Homo sapiens: one gene and its partners. The protein of the gene in region 2 purifies or fractionates together with the protein of the main gene of each other region. This does not show direct contact. Each region holds a gene or a part of one and is shown on either strand. Other genes may lie near its edges.

Region 1 (9,471 bases), on a different chromosome or scaffold from region 2:
GGCTTCTGTCGGGCCAATTAGGATCGCCGCAGGGAAGGCACGCGCCGCGGCTGAGCAACAGGGGCGCGCGTCACCTTCTCTAGTTAACCCGCGCGGCCCCGGGCACAGAGCCCGAGGCTGCGCGGTCCCCGGCGGGCCCGCGGACCCCCCCCATCTCTGCGCCCCCCACATCTCTGCGGACCCCGCCTCGCCCCAGCCCTCCCATCCACAACCCTCACAACCTTGCATACCCCGCTACGCTCCCCACCGCGCCCTCACATTCCTGCAGACCCCGTCTCCCCACAACGCTCCCCGCCAACGCTGCGGAGCTCCGCGTCGCCCCAGCGCTCCCTGCCAAGCCCCCCACACCCCTGTAGACCCCGCCTCGCCCCAACCCTCCGAGCTGCTCCCCTTATACCCTTGCGGACCTAGTTTGTTTCGTCCCAGTCCTCCCCGTCGCGTCTCCCACATCCCTGCGGACCTCCCCGCGCCTCGCCTCTCCCTTCTGTTACGTATCACGCACAGGTGGATCCCACTACGACCCAGCTTGGCTCCTGTCCCGCACCTCCGCACCTGGCCTCTAGCCCCGCCCTCACTGTCTTGGGAAATGAAGCGGAGGGGTGGGCCGGACACTCTAGAAGCACCCTGGCTCGGAGCTTCCCTAGCTCGGAGTTGGTTTGGAGCCCAGGCTAGGGACCCAGGGTGGGCGCAGCAGGGGAGATTGGCACCAGAAGCGTGGAGGAAGGGCACCTCTTCAGCCCGGCTTTTCCGCCCCTGGAGTCTGGGACAGCTCCGGAGCGTCCGGGTACTCCCTCCCAGACTGGCCCTGTTCCTTTTATCACATTTATGTCACACACGTTTTTTCTAAATGGGTTTACACTTTTGCTATTACTTTGCAGTTCGGTTTGTGTGTGTGTGACGGAGCCTGGCTGTGTTGCGCAGGCTGGAGTGCAGTGGTGCGATCTCTGCTCACTGCAGCTTCCGCCTCCCGGGTTCAAGCGATTCTCCGCCTCAGCCCCCTTAGTAGCTGGGATTACAGGCGCACGCCACCACACCTGACTAATTTTTTTGTATTTTTGGTAGAGACAGGGTTTCACTATGTTGGCCAGGCTGGTCTTGAATTCCTGACCTCAATTGATTCGCCCGCCTAGGCCTCTGAAAGTGCTGGGATTACAGGCGTGAGCCACTGTGCCCAGCCTTTTTTTTTTTTTTTTTTTAACACGGAGTCTCATTCTGTTGCCCAGCCCGGCGCGATCCTGGCTCACTGCAACCTCAGCCTCCTGGGTTCAAGTGATTCTCCTGCCTCAGCCTTCCCAGTAGCTGGGATTACAGGCATGCACCAACACGCCCAGATTTTTTTTTTTTTTTTTTTTTTTTTTTTTTTTAGTAGAGACAGGGTTTTACCATGTTAGCCAGGCTAGTCTCGAACTCCTGACCTCACGTGATGTGCGTGCCTCGGCTTCCCAAAGTGCTGGGATTACTGGTGTGAGCCACCACGCCCAGTTTTTTTTGTTTGTTTGGTTTTTTTTGAGACAGAGTCTCACTCTGTCGTCCAGGCTGGAGTGCAGTGATGCTACCTCAGCTGACTGCAAACTCACTGAACCTCTCAGGTTCAAGTGATCCTCCTGCCTCAGCCTCCAGTTCCTGGCTAATTTTTTTAGTTTTCGTATAAACGGGGTTTCATCGTGTTGGCCAGGCTGGTCTGTAATTCCTGGCCTCAAGTAATCCACCCACCTCGGCCTCCCGAAGTGCTGGGATTACAGGCGTGAGCCACTGCGCCTTGTCTGCGCCCAGTTTTTGTTTGTTTTTTAAAGAGACGGGATCTCACTATGTTGCCCAGGCTGATCTTGAAGTCCTGGGCTAAATTTTTGTCACTGTGCCTGGCTAATTTTTGTATTTTTAGTATAAATGGGATTTCACCACATTGGCCAGGCTGGTCTCAAACTCCTGGCCTCGTGATCCACCTTCCTCGGCCTCCCGAAGGGCTGGGATTACAGGCGTGAGCCACCGCGCCTGGTCTGCGCCCAGTTTTTGTTAGTTTTTTACGGAGATGGGATCTCACTGTGTTGCCCAGGCTGGTCTTGAACCGCTGGGCTCAAATCATCCTCCTGCTTCTGCCTCCCAAAGTGCTGGGATTACAGGCTTGAACGACCATGCCTAGCCATAATTATCCAGCTATAAGGTCAGCTGATTAATTCGTCTCTCTATATAATAACATATTCACAGGTTGGGAGATTAAGATGAGAACATCTTTGGAGAGGACATTATTCTGCCTTTTAGAGAGAAGGGCCTAGGACAGGAATTCCCAGTGCTCAGGTTTAAAGGAAATATGATGTTCCCATCATCGGTACATGAACGTGCCCCTTTCTCTGCATTCCTACCAACACTGGATATTTTCCACTTTTGGGACTTTTAGCAGTTGTTGAGCCAGCCCATTTTACAGCGGGGATAATTGAGGTTTAAGGAGGGGAAATTACTTGCCTAAGATCTCATGCAACTTTCTGTTTCCTGACTCCCAGTCAAGTCTGATTCTCCCTTGGTATGGCTTATATGGGAGGATATTTACCTGGTGGCTTGGAAACCACTGAATGACTTTGTATCTTCCATCCATCCATGTATCCGCAGCCCAGCGAATGTATATTGGGAGCCTCAGACATGTGACCAGGGCCTTGTGGGCCAGAGGCAGCCAGGAGACCTTTTTTTTTTTTTTTTTTTTAAGACAGAGTCTCCCTCTGTCACCCAGGCTGGAGTGCAGTGGTGCGATCTTGGTTCACTGCAACCTCTGCCTCCCGAGTTCAAGAGATTCTTCTGCCTTAGCTTCCTGAGTAGCTGGAATTACAGGCGTCCATCACCATGCCTGGCTAATTTTTGTATTTTTAGTAGAGACGGGGTTTCACCATGTTGGCCAGGCTGGTCTCCAACTCCTGACCTCAAGTGATCCACCCACCTCACTCTCCCAAAGTGCTGGGCTTACAGGTGTGAGCCACAGCGCCTAGCCAGTGCTCTTGTCTTTTGAGAGCCCCCTTTTCTCTCACCTGATCTCCCTGCCCCCTATTTTCCCCTTTAGTCTCCTTTCCAGACGCTACTGAGTAGCTTCAGGGTCAGTCTAGAGATGCAATCCAGGTTGGGATCCTTGCTGGGAGAGCCCTTCCTTCCCTGGCTTTGTAACTCAGGGCCTTCTGGTGTGCACACCTGCAGGGTCCAGGCTGGGCCTGTGCTTCTAGCTTCTCTGTGTCTCTCCCTGAGATTGGAATCCTGGCTCTGTCCTCAACTAGCTTGAAGGGGGGCCCCCAGGAATGGCCCCTTCTGGATTTCATACCCTTGTGTAACCTTGTTTCACTTTTTAAAAGATTTTATTTAAAAAGTTTTTTTTTTGTTAGAGACAGGGTCTCACTTTGTTGCCCAGGCTGCTCTCAAACACCTAGCCTCAAGCAGTGCTCCTGCCTCAGCCTCCCAAAACACGCCCGTTCACTTTCTACCAGGGTTGTGTGTGACCAGCAGATGTGTTGGAAGTGATGGTGTGTCACTTCTGAGGTTAGGTCATTAAAGACGCAGCGGCTTCTATCTTGTGTGTGTTCTCTTTTTCTTGGGCCACTCGCTCTGGGGAAAGCCAGCTGCTGGGGCTTGAAAACACACACGCCTGGGAAGAGGCCGCACTGGTGAGGGACGGAGGCCTCCAGCCCACAGCTGTGGGAACGTGGGAATGAACCTTTTAGGAAGTGAATCTTTCGGCCCTGCTCTAGCCTTTAGATGACTCAGTCCTGGCAGCATCTTGATGGCAACTTCACAAGAGAGCCTGAGCCAGACCACCCAGCCTGGCCTCTCCTGGATTCCAGACCCGCAGGAGCCATGAGTTTCTTTGTTGTTTTACACATCAAAGTTTTGAGGCAATTTGTTACACAGCAGTATATAACTAATACACCAGCTGTAGGGCTTTGGGCACGTTCCTTAGCCTCTGCACCCCCGTTTCCTCCCTCGTGCCATGAGCATTGTAGAGGCGAGTGAGGAACACGTAGACGCAGCACAGTGCCACGCACATGAGGCAGCTTTCCAGCCCCTCCCGGGATGGTTGTGGTCATTTTCTTGCCCCTCCCTGGATGGACCGTGACCTCACAACGTCAGGCCAAGTTATTGCATTCTTGGCCTGAGGTCATCCATTGGCCATAGACAGAGGTTCTCGGCAGGAAAGGGTGAGATAAAGAGAGGGGTCAGTCTCTTTCCTCCAGCCCGGGTCGGGAGAACCGTGCTGGGCCAGGTGAGACATCCGCTGTCTGTGCGGTGTCCTGGGATGAGCCACTGGACCTGACCCATGGGGAGATTTGTCTGTGTCGCCAGAGGGCGAGGGGTTTCCTGGTCTAGCTTGCCTTGGGCTTGGCCAAGCATTCTGGCTGCCACTGGGGCCCCCAGGACAACTGAGAACTGTCCTTTCTTCTTTGACCTTCAGCTGCCCCTCTCTCCCCTGTCCCCTGGTGCCTGCTCAGATGCTTTCTTCTTGTGACCCTTGACCCTTGGCCCTTGGCCCCTGCCCCGAGGCTCCTCCACCCTGGGCTCCGTGTTCTAGAGTTCACTGTGTACTAGTTCCTCAAGCTGTTTGTCCTTCACTGCTTCCGATTTTTCTGTGCATTACTCAAGAACTGCATGGGCATGTGTCAGTATAAAAAAAAATAAAGTTGGCCGGGCGCGGTGGCTCACGCTTGTAATCCCAGCACTTTGGGAGGCAGAGGCGGGCGGATCACGAGGTCAGGAGATTGAGACCACGGTGAAACCCTGTCTCTACTAAAAATACAAAAAAATTAGCTGGGCGTGGTGGCGGGCGCCTGTAGTCCCAGCTACTCGGAGAGGCTGAGGCAGGAGAATGGAGTGAACCCGGGAGGCGGAGCTTGCAGTGAGCCGAGATCGCGCCACTGCACTCCAGCCTGGGCGACAGAGACTCTGTCTCAAAAAAAAATAAAGTTGGCCGGGCGTGGTGACTCACACCTGTAATCCCAGCACTTTGGGAGGCGGAGACAGACAGATCACTGGAGTTGGAGACCAGCCCCTGGCCAACATGGTGAAACCCTGTCTCTACAAAAAAATACAAACATTTGCCTGTGTGTGGTGGCACATGCCTGTAGTCCCAGCTACTCGGGAGGCTGAGGCAGGAGAATCGCTTCAACCCGGGAGGCGGAGGTTGCAGTGAGCAGAGATCGAGCCACTGCACTCCAGCCTGGGCAACAGAGCAAATTTCCATCTCAAAAAAACCAAAAACCCAAAACAAAAAAACACAAAAAAACATTATCGACATTAACAACTACAAGGCGCCCGGCTAATTGTATATTTTTAGTAGAGACAGGGTTTCTCCATGTTGGCAGGCTGGCCTCGAACTCCTCACCTCAAGTGATCCGCCCGCCTCGACCTCCGCCTCCCAAAGTGAGCCACCGTGCCCGGCCGTGAATGTGACTTGATAGCCCAGATTTCCTTCCGTGAACGCTTGTTAGTTGTGAAACTAGCAAAGTTGCGCCTCTGAGTTTACGCAGAGCCGGCTCCGGAATCCGAGTTCCGGGTTCGAGCACAGCTCCGCCGCTACCTCGGGCGTGACCTTGGCCGGAGCCTGGTCCCCTCTGAGCCTCAGTTTCCCGGTCTGGGATGCCGGAATGACAGCTCGCCCCCTGCCCCGCCCAGCCCCGCCCAGCCCCGCCCCGCAGGCCCTGGGATTGGTTCGCGCGAGGTCCCCCTCCCCAGGCGGGGTCGGGCCTCTCCCGCCCGCCAGGCCCCAACCCGGAAATGCAGCTGGAGCGGAGGCGGAGCCCACTAAGGCCGCGGCGGAGCGACGATGGGCGCGGCCAATGGGCGCGGGCGTCGGCTGCGGCGCGACGGAAGTCCTGCCCGGCGCCGCGCGGGGGCGGGGCGGCGCCGGGGGCGGGGGGCGGCGGGCGACGGGGCGGGCGCAGGATGAGGGCGGCCATTGCTGGGGCTCCGCTTCGGGGAGGAGGACGCTGAGGAGGCGCCGAGCCGCGCAGCGCTGCGGGGGAGGCGCCCGCGCCGACGCGGGGCCCATGGCCAGGACCACCAGCCAGCTGGTGAGCGCGCGGCGGCGGACTGGACGCGCCGGTTTGTTACCCTGCCGGGTCCGGCGGCCGCCCGGGTCCGGCGAGGCGGGGCGGCCCGGGGTCCCGAGGGCCGGGTGCCTCCTTACCTGCAGCCGGGCGGCCGGGCCGGGGATGGCGGGCGCCGGCCGAGGGCGCTGCTTGGCTGCGGCGGGGAGACCGGGCCTGGGTTGCGGCGGGCGGCGGCCTGGCCGGGGGCGCTGACAGACGCGCGGAGGGCGGGGGAGGCCGGGAGGTGTCACCCGGCCCAGCGGGGTGGAAGTGCCTGGAAAGTTTGTTTTCGGCTTGGCGCAGCCTGGAGCCGAGCCTCCAGGGTTACCTTTCGGTTCTGTCTGTAGAGGAACCGCCCTGGGCTTCCACCTGGAACGGGGTCCTTGGCGCCTCCGCCTGCGAGAGAAGCAGAAGGTGCAAGTTCTTGCTGAAAGCACCTGATGCTCCTGGGCCCCCTTTTCCAGATTCTTGATGACAGTGGTCGGGAAAACTCGCCTTTCACGGCCCGGCCAAGGGGCATTTGGGTGCTTTTGCTGCCCGTGGCTGTGCTCAGCGTTGTGGGAAGCCCCTGGGAGGCCGAATGTGCAGGATCACCGAGGGGAAAGTGAGCTTGACAGGTAGGAGGGATTTTAGGGGAAGGACCAAAACAAACCACTTGTTGGGTGAAATGTTTTGCTAAAAGTGTCGCTGGTGTTTCTATATTTTCTCTCTATCGCTAAAAGTATCCCTCGTGTTTTTATGTTTTCCATATGCTAAGTTCTACAGTCTGGGGACGACGGTTTAAAAATTTATGCCTTGTATGCGATGTGCAGTGGGTGATGGAAGAACGTCTACATGGCTTTAACATTTGATTTAAAAGGCAAATATTTTAAATGAAGGAAAACCCAAGAAATTTAATTGATCCCGTGTCTTCCAGGATGCGGCTTTTTTTTTTTTTTTTTTTTGATGGAGTCTCCCTCTCGACGCGCAGGCTGGAGTGCAGTGATGCGATCTCAGCTCACTGCAACCTCCATCTCCCGGGTTCAAGCGATTCTCCTGCCACAGCCTCCTGAGTAGCTGGGATTACAGGCGTATGCCACCATGCCCGGCTAATTTTTGTATTTTTAGTAGAGAAGGTGTTTCGCCATGTTGGCCAGGCTGGTCTGGAACTCCTGACCTCAAGTGATCTGCCCGCCTCGTCCTCCCAAAGTGCTAGGATTACAGGCGTGAGCCACCACGCCCGGCAGATGTGGCTTTTTGATAGGCGTTCTTGATCTTTTTTTTTGTGGGGCGGGGAGTGGGGGGTTGTGAGTCTGTTTGAGAACCTGAGGAAAGGTATGGGCCCTCTTCTGAGAAAAAGGCAGAGTGACGCTGAATTTTGTAACTACGTCAGGAGGCTCTTGAACTTTCTGCAGCTCACTCGTGGACTTTGTAGAGATGCGTGTTAAGGAAGAAGGTTCAGCTGAGAAAAATGTTGAAGGGATGCCTTTCGCTATTTCGACATGTGTGGCTGTACACCAGAGTGGCCCGGGTAACATAAAAACATGAATTAGGCGGATTGGCCAGGCTCAGTGGAGGCTGGGGCCGAGAGTTATGTCGAAGTTTGTGAGGTTAACCTGCACCCAGTGACAGTCATGGCGAAATTTGTGAGGTTAACTCGCACCCAGTAACGCTGTTCCAATGCAAGGTGTGTATTTGGTGTCATCCACGGGAAGAGGAAAGAGCAAATTTTCTCATGGCCTTGGCAGTTCCACATGATGGACATTTCATATCTGCAGTTTTCTTCGCATGAGATGGCTTTTTTGCACAAAAACACTGGAATCCAGTGAGCAAGAATGATAGAATGCAAGATGGATTTCCACATGAGGAAGTGTCACGAACGAGCGTTTTGCATCTGTCAGCTGGATTCCCCCATGTGTACGTATGTGAGAACATGCCGTGTTTCCTGTCTGTAATGGTAGAGGCAGCCCTGATCCTGGATTTTCACCTGAGGATGGATAGATCTTCAGGGTTCAAGTGGGTTTGCATCTGGACTTTAGGGTGGCCCTGTAGGCCCTGTGTGAGAAGCCCCCTTCCCAGTGAACTTTCCCTTGTGTGTCCGCGTGGACAGCCAACAGGGGGAGCAGTGCGAGCGTGAAGGCAGACAGTGGCCTGGCCCAGTCTGATGCTAAGTGGGCCAGAGGCAGTGAGTACCATTTCTTGATCTGACTACTCAAGACAGGCGCTTCCCTAGGTACTTTCACACCTCATTGCGAGGTAGGTGTTGTTCCCATTTTACGGGTGCAGAAGCTGAGCTGCAGAGGCGTTAGGTACCTGCCTCATAAGTGGTAGAGACTCCAGTGTCACCCTGCCCCTCACGTTCGGAGCCCCTGAGGGAGGGTCTGCCGGGCAGCTCAGCCCAGCACTCTGTAAGGAAATCTTCAGTGCCACTGCCCAGGATGTCTTCCCAGGGATTGGGCCTGAATGTCTTGACCATGCCGTGCTGGAGGTAGGAGGGGTGTCTTCATATGGAAGAACTGTACATATTTCTTTGGCAGATGGCTGAACTCTGTGACCCCGGGGCCTGTTTCAGCCTCCTGCTGTCAGAAAGCAGCTGTTTGGGAAGAGGCTGTGATTCGGCCTTGTTTGAGGGCCGATACTCTGAATGGGTGAGGCTTGAAATCCTCCCTTTGGAACAAAGAAACATGTAATGATTTTGCTGAAGGTAGAATTGGGGGACTAGGCAGAGTGGCCTCCTGCCCTCCCTAGGGTGGTTCTGTCTTTTGCAAAGGTGGCTGCATCCTTAGGGGAAGGTGAGGGGAGAAGCAGGGAGCATGGAGAGAAGTGGCTTTCGATTTTCTCTCTCCTTTTGGGGAGTTCCTCCTTATGTGGCTGGTCTGGTGCATAGTGTGATGTATTCCTGTACGCAACGTTGCCCTGACAGCCAGTCCAAGCTGAGTCTAGAGCTGGCAAGGTGAGCTCCCAGTGGTAAGAGGGAAGTGGTTTGTTCTGCTTTTCTGAGATGTGTTCTTATGAGAAGGATCCAGCAGCAGCCTGCAGAGATGTGGGGCCTGAAAAGAGGCCTTGGGCAGCTCTTCTTGACAGGTCTTGGCCCTCTAGACTGCCTTCAGCACAGTTTTGGGGAGAAACAGGGAGTGTTCCTTTTTCAGTCTATGCACTCATCCCCTGAGCCGCCTGACCCAGGGTTTAGATGCTCCAGGGCAGCTGATTGACACCGGTGGGAGACGGAGTCTGGCAAGCAGGTGATGAACTGGGAAGCGCTGCAGAAATGAGGGGGCAAGCGTGGCCAGTCCCTTCTGAGAGGATGTGTTTGGAAGAGAGTGGGCACTGGCGTGGCACTTTCCCCTTCTGAGGAAATGGACAGGATGCCACGTGGTGCTGCAGTTCTGTGTGGGGCAGGTTGTGGCTGCAGAGAAGCCCTGGGTGCAGAAACAGT
Region 2 (5,411 bases):
TTGTTTTTTGAATGCTATTTTGCCAACAAAACTGGAATAAATGCATCTTGCACTCAGCATCTCTGAAGCACCAAAGCCTAACATTTCACTCTGCTATTTGCGGGTTGGATTGACGGCTTGGGTTACACCCTTCCAGCTAATTCGCAGGAAACCAAGTTGCTCTCAGAGTTGCCACGATTCCATGGTCAGAAAAGGCCCTGCTAAAGACCATATACAGCAGATAAACAAAAATAAATGAAACTTTACAACCATAAACTGTAAGAGTGAAGTCACCCAGAGTTTGGAGACAGAGTGGGACAGAAGTGATTTTGGTAACTGTTTTTATCACTGAAAGATGTGGTTTTACCCTTTTAAAGTTTTTTGTGCTGACTTAATGTAATTCCCCAGAAATGGCCAAGTCTCAAATTTCACAATTGTCATAAAATATTAGAACCAAAAAAAACCTTAGTGATCACTCACTTCAGATTACTCCATTTATCATCTGGCTTAATTTTAATTGGAAACCTCTTAGGGTCTCACCGATGTCTGGTGTGGGCTTAGAATTTAGAAGTTCACATTAGAGATAGTGTAGCTCAAAGTTGTTGCCTTTTTTGGTACTACCAAGTATGTTTAAAAATATTTTTTTCTCTACCACCCCCTTATGAAATTATAGTAATGCTATAAAGATCACACTTATAAAATTAACCCCACAATATTTCTAGGTTTTATATTTTTGCTCACCTAACATCTTTCCTTGATGTTTCAAAATGTCTAAGATATTGAAGAAATAAGCTCCTTAGAACTATGAAGTAGGACACAGTAGTTTCTTTAGGGACACTTGAAGAAAGTAATCATATTCTATTTAATTAGCTTACTCTCCTAGACCTAACAGACTACATCCATAACAAGTACATTTTGTCTAACTTGCAAAAAAGTGCATGGACAAAAATTCAGTAAACGTTTGATGAGAAACTATCAACCCTTAAGAAATGGCAATTTTTATAATCTTGTTCACTTTTATTAAACAGGTCCTAATCCTGAAATTCAGGTACTACGCACCTGCAACTAAAACTGAAAAACAAAAATAAAACCCAAGTGCTTCCTATTCCCCCTACGGGCTGAAAATGGGACAGTGTGACTATCTCAAGTCTCTCAAACACAAAGCCATATTCACTCAAGAGAAATCGTTTACATGTGGTTAAGGAAACAGGAAATTTTCACATTGGCTTTAATATTTACATTTTACCAAAATTTTCCTGAACTCAGTAATCATTACTAACACTTTTTATAGTATTATTTACTGCATCTTAAAAAAAAAAAACTAAGCAGAAAGTGTACAGTTGAAGAAAACTGGATGTCAGTCTATACAATGATTTACTTTTGGCATGACAGACTTTATTTTGGCACTTTCACAAATATTTTGCTTTACAGCAGTGACAAAATATTTGCCAGAAATTTTTCTTTTCCTGGCACGGATATTCCCAGCAGTTGTTATTCTATGAATTGAATTTCACTCTGCTTTGCACAGTTAGAGGTATACCCATTCCTACCCTCTGTAATTGAGGGACACAGCGTGGCTTTAGAAAGCTAGGCTATCGTTTCCTTTTAGTCACTCTAAAGTGAATTGGTTCTGTAAGTGATGGGGCAGGAATCTGAGAATTAATTAAGGCCATTAAGGATTTAAAGTAAACACTGTTCCAAGTGTTGCTTAAAAAAATGTTTTTAATGAATTATGTGGCAATTCCAGGGAATGTTCTCAAAATGAAATATTCATACTTTATTAAAAGTAAATTGTATGTTGGAAAAGTTGCTTTTTTTGCTGTCTTCTTCTGACTTGGACGGCTCACAGTTTAAAACAAAATTAGTGGTAAAATAGAAAAAGGAAATGTTTAGTACAGAAAGTACCAGCCACAGTACCCTCATAACTCCATCTCCTTCCCCAGGCATCACTCTTTCCAGCCACTTCAATCCTAAAGCAGTGAGACCCTCATTTTAACACACAGAGCCTCCCTGCCTACCCTCCTTCCCTGTAACGTGAGCTACTGTAGTCCATTTATTAGTTCTTCGGTTAAGCTTCAGTAGACATTTGGAGCACAATTCCAAAGGTAAATCAATCTATAGGCCTAAGCCTTAGATACCAACATCAGGAAAGCCCCATTCAGATCTTTGGAATTTACAGTCTTGTAAGTTATTTGCAAAAGCAGGCGTCTGTCTTAATATTGCCATCAGTTATCCTATAAAGGTTGCAAACTTCGAAATCCCCTGGCAGCCTTCCAATATCTCTACCTAGACACACACAGGATAATACATTCAGATTTCCTCTGGCCAATTCAGAAGTGAATCTGGTAATAAACAGTCTCATCGACAGGCTCTTTGGTCTTGATTTACAGACACTGTGAAACACTTAGAAATCAAACCCACGTCATCCTTGAGAGCAGACGGCCGTTAGCAAAGGGGAGATGTACATTTGATCAAAAATGTACAAAATTTATAACAGTGACATTTTCAATATTAGGCCACATGATTTATTCAGTAGTTTTTATGTTCCCAAATTACAATTTATGTCTATTCATAAGACTACAAAAGTTACCATTAGAATTGTCTGTGCTTATAAAATACCAACTTTTTTTTTAAACTGTTACATATACTCATTAACACCAGTCTGCAACAAGTTACATAGAATCAGAGGCACTTCAAAGGCTTAAAAAGACGTTTACAACTTAAATGCATTTTTAAGAACAAAAACTGATTTTTCTTTAAACCTCTACTCGTACCTTCAAATTGCAAGAAATTAACAAATACAGTGGCCAAAGGAATCTGCAGCAACTTCTTAAAATACTGTTAACATCTTTGGGTTTGCTGAGGCTTGTCAGTAACTTACATCAAATCCTCCCAAAAGAAGATCTGATTAGATAGATATGACTAAACGGTTTTGTAGTAATAATCCAATTTTACACATTAATTTGCTGTTGCAAATCTGCCCAAAGCTACAGGTAATGAAAAATAAAGCAAGTGTAAAATGGATAGTCTGACACTTAAAAATTTATACAAAGTGGAAGTTAAAGTTTACATATTTGAAAATCACATATACACTAAATTACCATTATCTGAATTTTCCAAAGACAAATTGCACCATGACAGCTACAAAAGGCATAGGGTTTGGTTTTAAGGGCACAAGAAGGGAGGGCAGAGGAGAGGAAGGGGACAACAGATAAATTAACAAAGTAAGACCAACTTGGTAAGGTCAATCTGAGACATGCTGACACAAATGAAACAGCTTTCATCTTTGAGTCATAGGAAAAAGACAATCATTTTGTATTTGCGCATAAAAGTTTAAACCAATTCCATGAACATCGAGGGTTTTCATAACATAATATTTTGCCACTGCTATTCACAGAACACTGCAGATGTTAAATTTTAATTTTATGTTGTTCTAAAGAAATACATGAAATGTTTTAAATACAATGGGATTTTATCATTAAAGTGCCAGAATGGCTCTTTAATGAAAACAAAAAACAAAGATCTTCATTATTCTATGCAAAAGCTTTATTTTGAAAAGTTCAGTGATCTCATAAATAGAGACACTAAGTTGGAGTTTTACGCATAAAACTCCTTAGTAGGTGCCTTCTGATAAGCAGCACTGGATGGTTTGCGTTCTCCAAGGTCATAGCTTCCTTCATCCTTCTTTCTCATGCGATACACCAACAGCAGGATAAGAAAAATTGCAAAGAGAAAGCCAATAACTCCACCAGCAATGACAGCTGAAACAACCAAAAGGAAGATTACTTTAGAAGAGATTCAAGGGTTGCAGACATTAGCTTTATTGTCAAGCCTAATCTACTTACACTTTTATAAAAGGCTTAATTTGAAAACCCCAATAAAAAAAAAGCTGGATTCAATGAAGCAACCTGGTAACTATGCAAATCTGAAACTCCTCAGGAAGGTACAGTAATTTCTTTGGTTAGTGTTAATAATACCACCCAAAAACCTCGATAAGAAAAATCTGGCCTTGATCTTAACTAATTCCATACTTGAAAACTACTTTTGTCTTTTCAGAACTCACATTTCATATTCTAATTTTCTAACTGCTTTTTTTCAACAGAGAACATAGTATAATTGACTTAAAATTTTAAAGAGTATACATGAAAAAAAGCATGCAAATTTATTTCTATTCTTGGATTTGAGACTACCAAGTGTGCCTAAATCTTGAAAGTTTTCCCCTTTAAAATATTTGCACTTCCATCCAATTAAGTTAAAATAGAAACAACGTTCTTAACACTTTGGGCAGTACTTATATGAACTGCCTTCCCCTAAAGAACTTTTCGTTCTCTTTATTTTGAAATGTAGAATGCCTGTGAGCAAGACTGATGGATCTCCACACTCTGCCATCTCTCTACATCCAGTTGTTCTGGATCAATTCAGATGTTAACTTTCCCTCTTTTAGGCTACCTCCTATCCCCTGCCCGATGGCTGGCGAAGAGGTAGGTTGAGGGAGCTGGCAGACAATAAAGACAATGTTTGCTGAGCCTCTTGCTTCTCGCTCTGGAATCAAGCACCCACAAGACTGCTTTCAGCAGAAAGATGACAGCAAGCTTTGCTGCACTTTTGAATATCACTTAGACTAACAGAGGCCTATGTAGGCACCCTCCCACCTGAGGCCCACCAGGCTACTCACCTGCTAGGACTTCTGTCCGTTTAAACAGACTGTCTGAGTGTTTCTCAGTATACACATTTGTATCCTCTTCGGCTGGGTCCATTTTCCTTTCTGAGTCAGAGAGGTGAACTTTCTCTTTATCAGTTTCTTCAGGTGACTGGTATGGGAAACAGGGAAAGATTACATTGATTTAAGGAAATGTGTTGGAAAGAAGAAATAATAGATGAGTATATTCCAAAATTTTTTTTTCCCCCAAAGAATGAGTTTAGGAAATAACTGGAATAATCACTTGTGTGATGTTTATAGCAATGGGTGAGTGTCATGATGGACCCATGTAGTTCATGGTTTGCACAACACCCATCGCATGATCAGGCAAGTCGGAGAGCTAGTGAGTTCATAATAATCCTAAGGACATGGTGAGGTTGTTTTAGTGGACATTTCCTAAGATTTCTACTTTCTCACCACTCTTCTAACTGCAGGTCACCATCTCCCTCTGACTGCTCCAACCCAACAGCACTGCCCCAATTCTCCCTGCTCCTTCACTTCTGAACTACACAGGGCACTAGGACAACAGTTCCCTTTCAGATATTCTCTCACGCCTGACTGGGCTTTTCCTGTCCCCACTCTGTGGGGAGCAATCCCCAAGCCTTACTCCTAATGCTTCCCCCTAGTTATATTACCTTCAGCAAACCCTAGACCAGGACTTCCAGGGACTTGGATTGCGCAAGTAGCTCCTCCCTGATCACATCATACTTCTTTTCTCCACCTTGATTTCCTC
Region 3 (7,839 bases), on a different chromosome or scaffold from region 2:
TCTCTAATCATTTATGGTCAAAGATTTTTAAAGTTGACTTTTATTGTTTTTAGGAAACATTGGTCTGCTCCATTATAACTTTTCTTTTGTTAGAAACAGAACTTGCAGGCTGGTTATGGTAGCTCACACCTGTAACCCCAGCACTTTGGGAAGCCCAGGTGGGAGGATAGCCTGAACCTCAGGAGTTCAAGACCAGCCTGGGCAACACGGTGAAATCTCATCTCTAAAAAAAAAAAAAAAATTAGGTGTGGTGGTGCACACCTGTAGTCCCAACTATTCAGGAGGCTGAGGTGGGAGGATCACCTGAGCCCAGGCAGGTCAAGACTGCAGTGAGCTCTGATGGTGCCACTGCACTCCAGGCTGGCCAGCAGAATGAGACCCTGTCTCAAAAAGTAAATGGAATTTATGGTGGTAAAGTTCAACATCTTGTCAAGACAAAGACTGCATAGTTTCTGGAGAAATAAACCTTCTGGGAATATTTCCAAATGGAATCTAGAAGACAGTGCATTGATATAGAGGTATATTTACAGATATATTTCTACATTAATAAAGTAAAGCATAATATCCTTTATAAATTAATGTCAAGCCTAGCCCAGACACTGAAAGCCTGAATTCTGTACCCACATAATCAACAGTCTATGGAAACTCTGGGAACCATGCCACTGGTCTCCAACCTAGCATAGTTGAGAAATGACACATTCTTTTAAGAAGCATTCATCCAGGAAATGAGTGTGTCACAAAGCAAACCAGTAAAAGGACCATAACTTATTTTATGAATGAAGAATATAGGGTACTAGCCAAAGGTACAGCTCCCTTATGAGTATGTTATAATTTCTCATTCTTTTCTTTTATCACGTGATGGATAGATAGAACTCTAACAGGAAGAAAAGTAATCATGTCAGCCATAAGAATATTGTCCATGTCATCTCATAATTGTTTTTAATCCATTTTTCTATATTTATCCCTATTCCAAGATCAGATCTTTCCACCTGCCCCTCCCCAACAAAAAAAAAGAAAAAAGAATTCATAGACAAGAAGACACAAAGAAATGGGAGACAAGAAAACACAAACTAATCAATTTTATTCATACTACTCATGAAAAGCAATTACATTTTTACATAAAATCATTAACACATACAATAGAAATAATAAGAGTAATACATCTGATTAGAAATACAATATAGGAAATAGATTTTAAAATAGCATATTTTAGTGATGAAATTTATATTTTCTACTTATTTATAGCAGCATCTGTAAGATTCTTCTATCTGTTCATAGTTAACTAGCAGCAAAATATTTTAAATTACAGAAATTCAGTAGATGTTTCCCTCCAATGTTTCATTCATACAGAATGTATCACGTTAACCAAACAAAACCACTTATATTTCCTGAAGAGAAAAGGTGGGAAAAGATTTCATCAGTTACCAGCTCCCCCAAAAAAAGAAGAAACGAGGGAGAAAGGATGGAAGCTAGAAAAATTTTGCATGCAATTACTAAAAAATATATTCTCAACCACTTTGACCAATTATAGGTGGATTTTGTGAAATCTACATATGTGTGTGTTAGTGAAAGTTATGTTAACTTTATTTTCTGACTTTATACTGCAGTTGAAAAATATGTGGAAGTTTCCAGGAGGCCTGTCAGAGCCTGAAGAAGATATTGGTGTGTATCTTTTATATTTTTAATTGGCTTAAAAATGTTGAGGAAATTAATGTGTTTACTTTCTTGCTTTATAGCTAAGAATAAAAATTTAAATTTTCCAATTTGTTCCGACTGAGTCTGAACATTTCAGAAATTACCTCAGAGCTGATATAATTAGCAGCATAATTTCTAATATTACAGTTTATTCCATTAGTAGAAATAATATCATTAGGAACATACCACCTATTCTTCTGTTTATGACTGCTTCTGGATTAATCTGTCTGAAAATGAGAAGCTTTGGATATACATCAGTAAAGTTTAGCATTAAAGGTTATTTTGGATACGACTAATATTGTTGTTGGAATTAAACTATGAGAAAACAAATTCCTGACCATTCCATCACAGAGGATGAATAGTAGCCTTTAAATGAACTTTGAAATAAATATAATAAAGTCAGTTATAAAGCAGTGATTATATAATTCTTCACTTTATGAAAATTGTATCTACTATTTATTTTTAATAGTCAGGTAGTCAAAACATAGTAAAATGTCATATAAGAAAGTCTCAACTGAGAAATAATCCCCTAACACAACTTACTGAGCTCAGTATTTAAGACAAGGAAATATAAAATAAGCTAAGAATTATTTATGTCACTGATTTACAGGAAATCGAAAAATAGAAACCAAATTTTCCTACCTATTCCTTAAACTATTGGATCAAATTCAATGTGTATCATGACAAATCAATGTATTTGTTTGATACCAATATTATTTCTCCATGACCTTTTCCTTAATATGCATGTCCCCTATTCTATTTAGCCAACAATGATATTAAGGCAATTTTCTAAATTGTCTTTAAATATTTTATTTAAAAATGTCCATGTACTTAAAGCTTGATTTTTAAAACTTTTACACAAATCAAAATACCATACATACATTATATAGCCAACTCGTAACAATCCATCAGAAAATGGATTGCATTAAGATATATCTCTAGCCAATCTTGGTTTCAGGTACTTATTGACCTTTTGCTTAGTTTATGCTTATTCTTCTGTTGATATAAAAGATGATTTTGTAGTGGTGTGAATGCTGAAAGAGAAGGCCATTTGTTCTACAGCCTAATTCTCTCACACTATCCACTGGTGCCACGTGAGAGCAGAGCATGTGAGCTAATTAAGCTTATGTTTTGCAGCCTTACCCAATCTATATTGGGCAAAAAGCAGTCTGCAGGTTTGCAAGGCTTCCTCTCTCCTGCATCTTGCCTTTTCAAATAAATTGATTTTTTTCATGTGAACTCTTATGGGTCCTCTGAATTTCAGCTGTACTTACTTGTAGATGTAATTGAAGAAAAACACATTTCCAAGCCAAATATATATAATTTCAGGCCTAAGTATACTCCAGAATCCTTCTTAAAGTCCAGATGATTAAAAATTCACTACCTTTTTTTCTTTAAAAAAAAAAAAAGTGCTTGTGGTTGTCACAACAACTCACCTACCCAGAGATCATATATGCCTCAGTCATGTGGAATTAAGAAGAAAAAAACTGCCGTTGGCATTAGCCATACTTCCTAAGCTTAGTGTAAATTAAAGCTTTGCCTGAAAATTCATAAAACCCTGAAAGCAGCTAGAAATGAAAACTGACAGTAGAGGTCTGAAAGACTATGTCTATATGAAGGCATTTCTAACTCAACATAAAACAAAAGATATTCTTAATGATGAAGCTGAATCATCTAAGAATTACTGAAATTATTTAAACTCTGTATTTAGGAAAACATGCAATGTACTTTAGGAATACTGCCATCACAAACAGTTAAACATTTATATTGGCTCAAACAGTAAACCCTAGTTAACTGGGAAACACATTTGTTTGAACTCCTTCATTCTTTCATAATACTAGGTAAATGAAGAATTGTTATCCATAGTGTTTTTTAAATATCAAGAGGGTCATATAGAAAATAGAATGCAATCCTCAAGGCTTTTGTATAAAATAATACCCTAAGAGTATAAAGGTATCCACAAGATTAAAATTGACAAACTGCCTTCTTAAAAAATCGTATTACCACTGGCAGGAAGAGTATCTGCTGCATTAGCCAGAGAACTATAAAGCAGCTGAGCCTTATCAGAGATCATCAGTGCACTAGAGTCAGAGGGAAACACCAGGAAAACCCACATTCTGCAGATTATTTCCCATTATATTTTATTTCAATCTAATTCTATTATTAAATATAACAAAATAGAAATAACAAATATAAACTCCATTTCATTATTGTCCTGTAACTAAACAAAACAATACAACATATTTAAACATATCTCTTCATCAGCAAAAATAAAAACAAAACCTCTTAGTTTTTCCTATGTTCTTCAAACCTATAAAACAGCAAATGTTATTTCAGTTTGGCTTACAGTATATTAAAATAATAAAAAATACAACAGAATAAAGCACACTATCTTGATTAAAAATTTCAATTCATCTTGAAATCCTTGGGGAAGAAATATCCATCTTGAGGTGGAAGGGTCTCCCGCATACTCTGGAGACAAAAGCACTTATTTGCCCATTCAATTTTCAGTCAGTTAGTGATTCAAGTTAAACTGATCAAAACTACTCAGGCAGTGCTGATTTTCAGTCAGCTGCTATGGTGACTGCTGAGCAGGGCAGATTTGCTCACTACCCCCATCCAGTGCTTCCACGACATAGAAACAGCATAGATCATGAGCTACATGCCGAACTTTTGATTAGTGGTACTAAGAGCTAAATAGGATCCCCATAATTTATTTTCAAACATAAAGAATAAAAATGGACATTTAAACAAGTTAGGAGATGTTATATCAAATTTAAGACTAGTGCTACTATCTTTAATAATAAATTTAATAACAAACATGTATTTCCCCATAATTATTTTTCAAAGCATAATGAATAAAAATGGACATTTAAACATGTTAGGGGATATTTTATACAATTTAAGACTAGTGCTACCATCTTAAATAATAAATTTAATAACAAATGTATTGCACATCAGAGTAAAAATTACTTTTCTTATTAAGGAAAATTTCTCTTTTTTTGAGACAAAGTCTCACTCTGTTGCCTAGGCTGGACTGCAGTGGCACGATTATGGCTCACTGCAACCTTGACCTCTCAGCCTCAAGTGATCAACCCTCCCACCTCAGCCTCCCAAGTATCTGAGACCACATGTACACGCCACCATGCCTGGCTATTTTTTGTGTTTTTTTGTAGAGACGGGGTTTCACCAGGTTGGTCTTGAACTCCTGGGCTCAAGCGATCCTCCTGCTTTGGCCTCCCAAAGTGCAGGGAATATAGGCATGAGCCACTGCACCCGGCCTAGATTTTTCTTTTATGCTTTCAGTTGTTTCTAACCATGTTTAACCTATGGGCAAATCTCAATTGTAAGGGAAGTCAGCATGTAATTGAAAAATGGCAGACAAATGCCTTATGTTTTAAAACATTATACTCTTTCTATGCATCTTTCCATAGCTATTAGAGGGAAAAAACAAGAGCATATCCAGGGGATGGGTAAGACAGTCTATGGTAAGACAGTCTACAGTCACAGCACATGGGAATTGAGACATGTTTCTGTGACTTCCTCTTCTTTGCATGTTTTTCACCAGTAGAATTACTGCAAGGGCAAATATCATTTACTATTTGACAAACAAGAAAAATAGAGGCAAAACGAGTATTGGAACAAAAATCTTTGTCTGTGACAATTGTGAAGCTTTCCAGCAAAGTGGTAGAGGAAGGCAGCTTTTTAAAGGGCTTCTCCTAAATACTTTGGGAGACAATGACAGAACATCACAAAATTAGAGAAAGCCCAGTTAGAGGGACCATCTGGATGTGTAGAAAAAGCAGCCACAAAAATATGTTAATGGCAATAAAAATCCTGCCACACAAATTTGCATTTAATTGAAAAATCAACCTTATAAAATGTGAAAACCTTTGTTGAATTATAAAATTATTTATATTCCAAGTTTCTTGAAAACTGATCAAACACCTCCAGCATTTCGGTGTTGAAGAAATGAATCTAAGTTCTTTGGAATCTTATCTCAAGAAACAAAGGAACTGCAGCCATGCAAAATGTTTTAACTTTTCAATCTATATTTTTACCTTTTGGGAAAAAGAGCAGCAAGAAGTTAAAAAGAGCTGACCCCAAAAATGTACAGGTAGATAAGCCTCCAAGTAGCAGCCAAAGAAATATTCAGCATTTCAAAAGCTTCTTGAATTTACAGTGGTAAGAAAATATTTTGGGATTTCTTGATATCCACAAGGCAAAGAATTTGTATTGAAAACTTTACTTTGTTAGGGTAATGTTTTGAGCCTTTACATAATGCTACTTTAACTGAAAATCTTTGATGATACAGTTTCTAAAAGTGTAATTATTATTGATTTGTACATCTCTTTTTTTACGTAGGAGACACAGCGGTTCGAGAAGTTTTTGAAGAGACTGGTATAAAATCAGAATTCAGGTCCGTCCTGAGTATTCGGCAACAGCACACAAATCCTGGAGCTTTTGGGAAGTCAGATATGTATATCATCTGCCGCCTAAAGCCATATTCATTCACCATAAATTTTTGCCAGGAAGAATGCTTAAGATGTGAGTGGATGGATCTCAATGACCTGGCGAAGACTGAAAATACAACTCCCATCACCAGCAGAGTTGCTAGGCTGCTGCTGTATGGGTACAGAGAAGGGTTTGACAAAATTGACCTGACTGTGGAAGAACTTCCAGCAGTTTACACAGGACTGTTTTATAAACTCTATCATAAGGAACTGCCAGAGAATTATAAAACTATGAAAGGAATTGATTAAATTCACATTTATATGTTTAGAAACATGTAGACTAACGAATGACATAAGAAATAGTGGACATTTTGGATTGATTAAACATCTGACTGTGATTTTCTAATGTATATGATTTCCATGAAGAAATTTTGTTTCTAAACATGCACATTTTAAAAGCCTCTTTTCGAATAAAGCAAATGCGTGAAAAAGATCATTGCTCTAGGTAAGCTTCACTGGGTAACAGCAGATGCAATATAAAAGGGAGAATATACATTTTACAACTTTTGTTATTTTTCTTTACTGGGACAATGGTTACATATTTTACTACTGGATAAAAAATTGTTTGACCAATTATCCAAACTGAGCTATACACATTTATTTTCTTTTACTCTCATTAACAAATTTCTAAAATATACTTCTTCTTTCATGTGAAATGAGATTAGATGTGGCCATTAAAATCAGCTCTTAGCAGACATTGGAAGAAAAAGTATAGCTTTCTGCCCAGGTCCTGTTTTGGATCCAAGTTTATACTGCCCAGTTCGTTTCAGTGCCACATACCAACTGGTGTATTTCCTTGACCGGTAAGTATTGTAGTTATTAGATTCCAATCGTTCAAAAAAGAAACACTCATCCGTAACACATTTCTGAAAAATAAAGGAAGAATTACCTGTTATTATTATCATTATTATTATTACACTTTTCATATTAAATATTTATGATAGTATAATGCCTATTCTGCTCAACCAGCAGCAGTGATGTTGGGTTCAGCAGGGCAATCAAACTAACAAGATTCAATGGGCCAAAATGTGACACAGACTAGTTCTGAAGAAGGATGCAGGCCAGGAACACAGCATGTCAGCAGGACAGCATCAAGTATGTCTCTTCAGTAGGAGTTCAGAGACAATTCTCCAGCTCCAAAACAGACAGGTCAGGTGTTAAACACAAGGAGGGACATACCCAGTAAGAAGAAATATGCTATGGGAAGCCCAAAGCTATAGCTCCCAGCAGTATTTATGATCCATCCACACTCTTCCCAGTCCCAAGGTAGGTTACCAATCAGGGATCATTTTTACTTTTATCAGAAGCAGCAGTAGAAGGCTAACCCATTGTAATCTTTCCATACAGAAGGAGGTTTGTTAATACTTTACTCACAAGAAGAGTTAATTCCCCAAATTTTAACAAAAAGTTTTAAGTGGCTAATGTTTTTTAAGGCATAATAATGAATAGTTTATTGTACAGAAAATAGCTATTGGTATATAATGCCAAAAATAATATTGGAACATTATATTACATATGATTAACAATCTCCAAACACTGTTAGACAATGAGGAATAAGTAAGTATCATACTGATTTCTGGCAGTCTCTTTCAGGAGGGAGGGACTTTGCCTTTTAATTTCAATTCAACTA

Evidence for each region. Proteins that work in one complex are often made in the same cells at the same time.
Region 1: the proteins of SDC2 (region 2) and PDPK1 purify together in Homo sapiens (affinity purification with mass spectrometry; 5 studies listed by BioGRID and IntAct, with this or other methods). This does not show direct contact.
Region 3: the proteins of SDC2 (region 2) and FGF2 purify together in Homo sapiens (affinity purification with mass spectrometry; 5 studies listed by BioGRID and IntAct, with this or other methods). This does not show direct contact.

Annotation. Positions count from the first base shown.
Region 1 is NC_000016.10:2,532,099-2,541,569, forward strand, and holds the start of PDPK1 (3-phosphoinositide-dependent protein kinase 1), read left to right. Parts: upstream 1-5,922; 5' UTR 5,923-6,014; coding exon 6,015-6,038; intron 6,039-6,520; exon of another isoform or gene 6,521-6,673; intron 6,674-7,737; exon of another isoform or gene 7,738-7,952; intron 7,953-9,471. UniProt on the Homo sapiens protein: Serine/threonine kinase which acts as a master kinase, phosphorylating and activating a subgroup of the AGC family of protein kinases.
Region 2 is NC_000008.11:96,607,714-96,613,124, reverse strand, and holds the end of SDC2 (syndecan-2 precursor), read right to left. Parts: intron 4,791-5,411; coding exon 4,655-4,790; intron 3,741-4,654; coding exon 3,577-3,740; 3' UTR 1,335-3,576; downstream 1-1,334. UniProt on the Homo sapiens protein: Cell surface proteoglycan which regulates dendritic arbor morphogenesis.
Region 3 is NC_000004.12:122,891,447-122,899,285, reverse strand, and holds the end of FGF2 (fibroblast growth factor 2 isoform 18 kDa), read right to left. Parts: intron 7,076-7,839; coding exon 6,890-7,075; 3' UTR 6,459-6,889; coding exon of another isoform or gene 6,061-6,458; 3' UTR 1,663-6,060; coding exon of another isoform or gene 1,608-1,662; 3' UTR 1,050-1,607; downstream 1-1,049. Other genes in the region: NUDT6 (nucleoside diphosphate-linked moiety X motif 6), read left to right, coding at 1,608-1,662, 6,061-6,458. UniProt on the Homo sapiens protein: Acts as a ligand for FGFR1, FGFR2, FGFR3 and FGFR4. Also acts as an integrin ligand which is required for FGF2 signaling. Binds to integrin ITGAV:ITGB3.